Homo sapiens: one gene and its partner. The protein of the gene in region 1 purifies or fractionates together with the protein of each later gene. This does not show direct contact. Each region holds a gene or a part of one and is shown on either strand. Other genes may lie near its edges. The genes, in order: OR13J1 and SLC41A3.

Region 1 (3,146 bases):
TCACATCTGGCACCACCTGACATGTAGCAGGTCCTCAGTTACTTCTAGGTTCTGGGATGAGTAAGTGAGGGTGGAATAAAAGACGGAAATGGTCTCCTGCAAGGAAGGCACTGAGAGGAACTGTGCTCCACCCAGGCCCAGGATTTGGCATCGTGTCCCATGGGATTAATGACACCGTGCCAGATACCCTGGAACACTAAGGAGAGGTGACTCATGCTCTTTTGCTGGTGAGAGGATTGTGGCAGCACCTGGGGCACTGATATCCATCTAGAATGGTAAAAGAACAAGCATTGTTTGAAACCTAATAGAAGCATACACCTGCTCTGAGCATGGTATAGGGGTCACACTGTTGGGAGGGCTGGATTCTAGCTTCACCTCACCAGAGACCTGTTGTGTGACCTCAGCATCCCCATCTATACAATGGGAGATCCAACAAGTTGGCCTCTGGTCATGTTCCATGCTAATACCCTAGGAGTTCATGAAGTCAAAGCAGCCCTCGCTCTGGCCCACAGAACATAGGGGTTTGGAGCTGGGCCAAAAGCTCCATCAGATTTTAGCTGGGAAACCCACAGGAAGGCAGATTGTGAAGGTCCAATCCACACAGGGTAGCTAATGAAACAGGCCCTGGGCAGGGGACAGGGGAACATGCCCAGCGATAGGCTTCAAGGTCAGCAGCCCTCCAACACACAGCACGGTGTATGCTTTGTTCATGGATACTAGAGTAGGCCTGAAGAGACAGGTCAGACCACTGCAGGCCGAGGACATTCCAGACAGAAGGAATAGCAAATGCGATGGCTCAGAGGCTTCCTTAAAGCCAGGAGAATCTCCACCTGCTCAGAGACCACCTAGCCCACTAGTTCCTCAAAGTGTGGTACCTACATCAGCAGCAGAAGCATCGCCCAGACGCACCGAGTCAGAAACTGGGTTTGGGGCCCAACAATCTGTTTTAACAAACTTTCCAGGTGATTCTGGTGCATGTTAAAGTTTGAGAACTGTTGATCTAGCCTACTGTTTCCCAGACTATGCTCATAGAACACTTATCTGCAGTAGGTTAATGGGTTTTCTGTAAAAGGGGATCCATGATCAAATAAGTTTGGGGTACAGATGTTCTACATTGCTTTGCAGGAGTCATAGATCACATTAGCGTAGTAAACGCTCTGAGAAGTCCTGCAGTAAAGAGCTTTATTTTTTATTAATCCAATGTTGTCTCAAATTGATTTTTCAGATTGCTTACTAATGTTCTCATTAACATTCTCTCAGGGAATGCTGATCTAAATCAATGCTCATTTTTCACATGGATAAACTGAGGCCTAGAGAGGATAAAGGGATTGCCCGACGTCACAGACAGTGAGTGTGGCAGTGCTGGAAAAGATCCTGACAGTCCACCTCGTCCCAGAAAGGGCTCTGTGAGCTTCCCCGCACCCTGTACCCTCTCTCCTTCCATCCCAGCTGTGGACCATCTCTTCAGAACTCTGCAGCATGGAGCCGCTCAACAGAACAGAGGTGTCCGAGTTCTTTCTGAAAGGATTTTCTGGCTACCCAGCCCTGGAGCATCTGCTCTTCCCTCTGTGCTCAGCCATGTACCTGGTGACCCTCCTGGGGAACACAGCCATCATGGCGGTGAGCGTGCTAGATATCCACCTGCACACGCCCGTGTACTTCTTCCTGGGCAACCTCTCTACCCTGGACATCTGCTACACGCCCACCTTTGTGCCTCTGATGCTGGTCCACCTCCTGTCATCCCGGAAGACCATCTCCTTTGCTGTCTGTGCCATCCAGATGTGTCTGAGCCTGTCCACGGGCTCCACGGAGTGCCTGCTACTGGCCATCACGGCCTATGACCGCTACCTGGCCATCTGCCAGCCACTCAGGTACCACGTGCTCATGAGCCACCGGCTCTGCGTGCTGCTGATGGGAGCTGCCTGGGTCCTCTGCCTCCTCAAGTCGGTGACTGAGATGGTCATCTCCATGAGGCTGCCCTTCTGTGGCCACCACGTGGTCAGTCACTTCACCTGCAAGATCCTGGCAGTGCTGAAGCTGGCATGCGGCAACACGTCGGTCAGCGAAGACTTCCTGCTGGCGGGCTCCATCCTGCTGCTGCCTGTACCCCTGGCATTCATCTGCCTGTCCTACTTGCTCATCCTGGCCACCATCCTGAGGGTGCCCTCGGCCGCCAGGTGCTGCAAAGCCTTCTCCACCTGCTTGGCACACCTGGCTGTAGTGCTGCTTTTCTACGGCACCATCATCTTCATGTACTTGAAGCCCAAGAGTAAGGAAGCCCACATCTCTGATGAGGTCTTCACAGTCCTCTATGCCATGGTCACGACCATGCTGAACCCCACCATCTACAGCCTGAGGAACAAGGAGGTGAAGGAGGCCGCCAGGAAGGTGTGGGGCAGGAGTCGGGCCTCCAGGTGAGGGAGGGCGGGGCTCTGTACAGACGCAGGTCTCAGGTTAGTAGCTGAGGCCATCGTATGCCAATGCCAGTGAAGACATGGCAGGGCTGGGGCTACAGGTCTGGTATCTTCATCCCAGCAAGGCAGCACCAAGTCCCGCTGATCCTGCCACAGAACAGCCCCCAAATCACCCTCTGCTCTCAGCATCACCCTGGCCTTCACACCAGCCTCCTGGCTGGTCCCAAGACTTCAGTCCTGTTCCTCCCTCCAATCTCTCCTTCATGGGGCATCTTTTTGAAATGCACATGTGATTGCATCACTCTTCTCACTGAAATCCCTAGGTGGCTCCCCACTGTTCTCAGAACAAAGTGGAAGCTTTTCAGTGGGGCATTTGAGGCCCTCACAAGCTGGCCCTGCCTGACTGGCTCCCCAGCCTTCCTCCCCTCCCACCCCATCTCCCTCCTCACAGCCACACACACCAGCCAGTTGTGGCCCCCACATGCCCTGCACCACCCAGCTCTGTGCTCTCCTTGTTTCTCCCCACGAGGCAGCACCCCCTCCCCTATCCCCAGCACACTTCTCCATATGTAAAAGGACTGACTGCCTGACCCTTCAGGCCCAGCTCAAATGCCACCTCCACCAGGAAGCCACCCCACCTTGCTCCTCTTGCTGTGCCCCTCTGTGTTTTCAGCATTACTCCAAGAGCAGGGAGTGTCAGATTCTACTCTCTCCCAAGGTCCAGCCTTGCCC
Region 2 (3,820 bases), on another chromosome or scaffold:
ACCCCTCTTTTAACCAAAGCTTAGCTTGGTGTCTGGTGTCTGATAAGTTTCTGTAAATGGAAGTGATCAGTTAGGAGAAGAACAAAACATGTTTTGTCCAGTTTAGCCCCCAGGCCCTGGCCTGCAGGGACTGAAGAAACAGCCTTCAGAGGCTCCTAGGCAGCCCCTGCGTGTCCACAGTGTCCCTCCTCCCTTGCTCCCTTAGGGGACCATGTCTTTATTCCTTGCATGTCAGTGGGCCACCCAGCGTGTCCTCACCCCAACAGTGCCAAAGTGCCTTCACATTGTGCATGAGAACAGCAACAGAGGGCTTATTACGTTGGAGTGATTTTTTGGGATGAGTCACCAACTCGGATGCCTTCAGTGGCCAAACAATCTGCATGAATTATGCAGCTAGACAGTGAGAAATGGCAGGGGTAAGCTGCAGAATGCATTTCTCATATGAACAGTGTGGTGCCTGTCCAGCTCCAGCCAGTAGTTGCCTCGGGAGAGTGTAGGTCCAGACTTGCCAGTGCTGACTTGGGAAGAGAAGCTGGGAATCTGTATTAAGGGCCTAATTTGTAAACAGTACCAATTAATTTGAGGTTTTTTTTTCCTTTTTCTTTTTAAAATTATGTATGGGCCAAGCCGAATAGATCGCAGCAGTCCTCTGCCTGAAGACAATTGTTTGCATCCTCTAGAACAGCCTGTGTGGTTGGCCTCTGCCTGAGAGGTCACTGGTGCACACCTGGCCCAGCTAGGGAGAGTTCTCCATGGCACTGAGCAAGTAGGATAGGGGAATCCCCACCTTCCATCAGCCCGCCCCCGCATCTGCCCCCACAGAAGGAATGCTCAGCATGGCCTTTGTCAGCTGGACCATCTGGCCCGGGCAGAGCTTGAAACCTTTTTCATACCCTGTGGGATCCCGGAGTCTCAGCAGGAAGCCCTGGTGTTCCCAGAGACCGCATGTGCTCATGGTTTTCTGGGCCTCATGACTCTGCCTCTAGGGTTCTGTGTTCTATGCCCTGTCAGTCTACACATGACCCCGCTCGTCCTGTTTCCCCTAAAGCCACTTGCTCTGGGCACACACCCAAAGCATCTATGAATGTGGGAGTTTGCACTGACAACTGAGCTCCGAGAGAGGGGCTCACCTAGCACCACAAATTGAAATCATGCAGCAGACAACGTCTTTTCTTCAACGCTCTCAGACCACACAGCCATGAGAGGTGTCCCAGGCATGTCTCCTGCCGCATGCTTGCTTTGCCACCTGCCTGTGATCATCTCTGTCCTCCCCTCACCTTCCCTCTCATTCTTTTTTTTTTTTTGAGACAGAGTCTTACTCTGTCACCCAGGCTGGAGTGCAGTGGCGTGATCTTGGTTCAGTGCAATCTCTGACTCCTGGGTTCAAGTGATTCTCCTGCCTCAGCCTCCTGAGTAGCTGGGATTACAGGTGTGCACCACCATGCCCAGCTAATTTTTTTTGTATTTTTAGTAGAGACAGAGTTTCACCATGTTGGTCAGGCTGGTCTCGAACTCCAGACCTCAAATGATCCACCCACCTCAGCCTCCAAAAGTGCTAGGATTACAGGCATGAGCCACCATGCCTGGCCCCCTCTCATTCTTATCCACTGTCTTCATTCCTCCTCTCTCCTTCCCACCTTGAGTGAAAAAAAAAAAATCACTTTCATTTTCTCAGATATTCCAGGCTGTAGTCTGTTTCCTGTCAATGCCTGTGGCCTTGAGGTCTGACTTATCCAGACTGCCTTATCACACTATTCTCAGACCTTTCTATCCACTCTCCCCTCATCCTTACTTTGTCCCTGGATCCCCTCCCTCCCATCCTCGCTCCAGCCAACAAATACTTATTGAGAACCTACTTTACAGCCGCACTCCCCTCACCTTAAGAGATGCCAGCAGTCAAGGTGATGCAGTTACTCCCTGGATACCTCACTCACAAGCTCTGGGCCACCCTGACTTGCTGCCAAACAAGATCTGTGGTCAAGTGGGAGGAAAGGAAAAGATAATGAAATACTGAATTAACCAAAGAAGACTTCCTGGAGGAAGGGAACTTAAAATAAGGGATACAACTTAGAGACTGGCGTAAAGAAAGGGAAAACAGATTCCTTTTCTCCTCGTAGGTGTTGGTGGCAATCTGGTGGCCATTCAGACCAGCCGAATCTCAACCTACCTGCACATGTGGAGTGCACCTGGCGTCCTGCCCCTCCAGATGAAGAAATTCTGGCCCAACCCGTGTTCTACTTTCTGCACGTCAGGTGGGTGTCATGTCTTTCAGAGGCCATGATAGCCATTTCTTTAAACAAGAAAACATCGGTGTCATTGGAATCTGGTGTTTGTAGCAATGGATGCCTGAAGCCAGGGCTGATCTCGGCACACATCACCTTCAGGGCCCCAGAAATGAGACTCCCCGGCCCTGCCTTTCCTTCATTCCTTCATTCAATTATTTATTGAATGTCCACTGGGCACTAGGTGTTAGGTTAGTGGTGAAACAGGGAGAGCTGATTTCTTGCCCTTGAAGTACACAGTATAGAAGGGCAGATAAACACAAGTGGGCTCGTAATTAAAAATTATGTTGGGTACCGAGCAGCAAAAGTGCAGAGTGCAGTGAAAAAGAATTAGAGGAAATACACTTGGGATAAGGAAGCTCCTCCCTGAGGACAAGTGGGTGTTGTTGGGAGGAGGAGGGCAAGAGAAGAAGGGGCTTTCAGGGCAGTGGGTGCAGTCTAGCAAAGGCCCAGAGGCAGGAAGGAGTGTGGCAAGTCTGAAGAACTGAAAGGCCAATGTGGCCTGAGCTGAATGGACAGGAGGGGATGAAGGAGGCTGAGGCCAGAGAGGCCGGAAGGAGGTGATCCGACAGAGCCTTGGAGTTGAGGAAGGAACCTGGATTCTACTCAGAACCACTGGAAGCTTTTGGAGATGTTGTGTCTTTTTGTTGGCTTTGAAAAATCAGATCTTCTTTCCTGTTACATTGTTTTGGATTTCCTTTCTAAGAACTACCTTTAGCCTTCTTTTGGGTTGGCTGTTGGCACATTTCTGAAGGATATTTTCACTGGTTGTAAAATTCGGTGTCAATAGTTGTTTTCAAACACTTGAAAAATGTGCCACTTCCTTCTGATTCCATGACTTATGATGAGAAATCTGCCATTTCAATTTATTTTGCTGTATAGGTATGGTGCCATTTCTCTCTTGCATATTTCAAGACCTTGTCTTTAGTTTCTAGGAGTTGGATTATGATATGTATTGGTATGGACTTTTTGGGGTTTATCCTATTTGGGGTTTGTTAGGCTCCTTGAACACATGGATTTATATCTTTTGTCAAATCGGAAAATTTAAGCCATCACTTTTTCAGCTGCACTCTCCTTCTTTTTGATATTCTAATGACATGAATGTTAGATCCTCTGTTACAGCCCCACAAGTCCCTGAGACTCTGTTTGGTTTTTGCAAAGTCTATTACTCTCCTTGTTTAGATTGGCTCATTTCTATCACTTTTTTCTCCAAGTTGACTGATCTTTTTTCCCCTGCCCTCTCCATTCTGCTATTGAGCCTATTCACTGAGTTGTCTGGGACTTTTGGGGGTATTGTATGTGTTTAGTTTTAACATTTCCATTTGGTTCTTCTTTCTTTCTATCTTCTTTTTCTTTTCTGAGACTTTCTATTTCTTTGCTTATACTTTCTATTTTTTTGTTTGTTTCAGGTGGGTTTGTGATTGCATGATGAAGGATTGTTGTAGTGGCTTCATTAGAACGGCTTTCAGGTGATGCTGACGTCTGTGTCGTCTCACTCTGCTGTCTGTTGGTTGTCTTTTCTCATCCAGGTTGAGATT

What was found.
Region 2: the proteins of OR13J1 (region 1) and SLC41A3 purify together in Homo sapiens (affinity purification with mass spectrometry; one large-scale study listed by BioGRID and IntAct). This does not show direct contact.

Annotation. Positions count from the first base shown.
Region 1 is NC_000009.12:35,868,735-35,871,880, reverse strand, and holds OR13J1 (olfactory receptor 13J1), read left to right. Parts: upstream 1-1,479; coding exon 1,480-2,418; downstream 2,419-3,146. UniProt on the Homo sapiens protein: Odorant receptor.
Region 2 is NC_000003.12:126,011,047-126,014,866, reverse strand, and holds part of SLC41A3 (solute carrier family 41 member 3), read left to right. Parts: intron 1-2,117; coding exon 2,118-2,252; intron 2,253-3,820. UniProt on the Homo sapiens protein: Na(+)/Mg(2+) ion exchanger that acts as a predominant Mg(2+) efflux system at the mitochondrial inner membrane.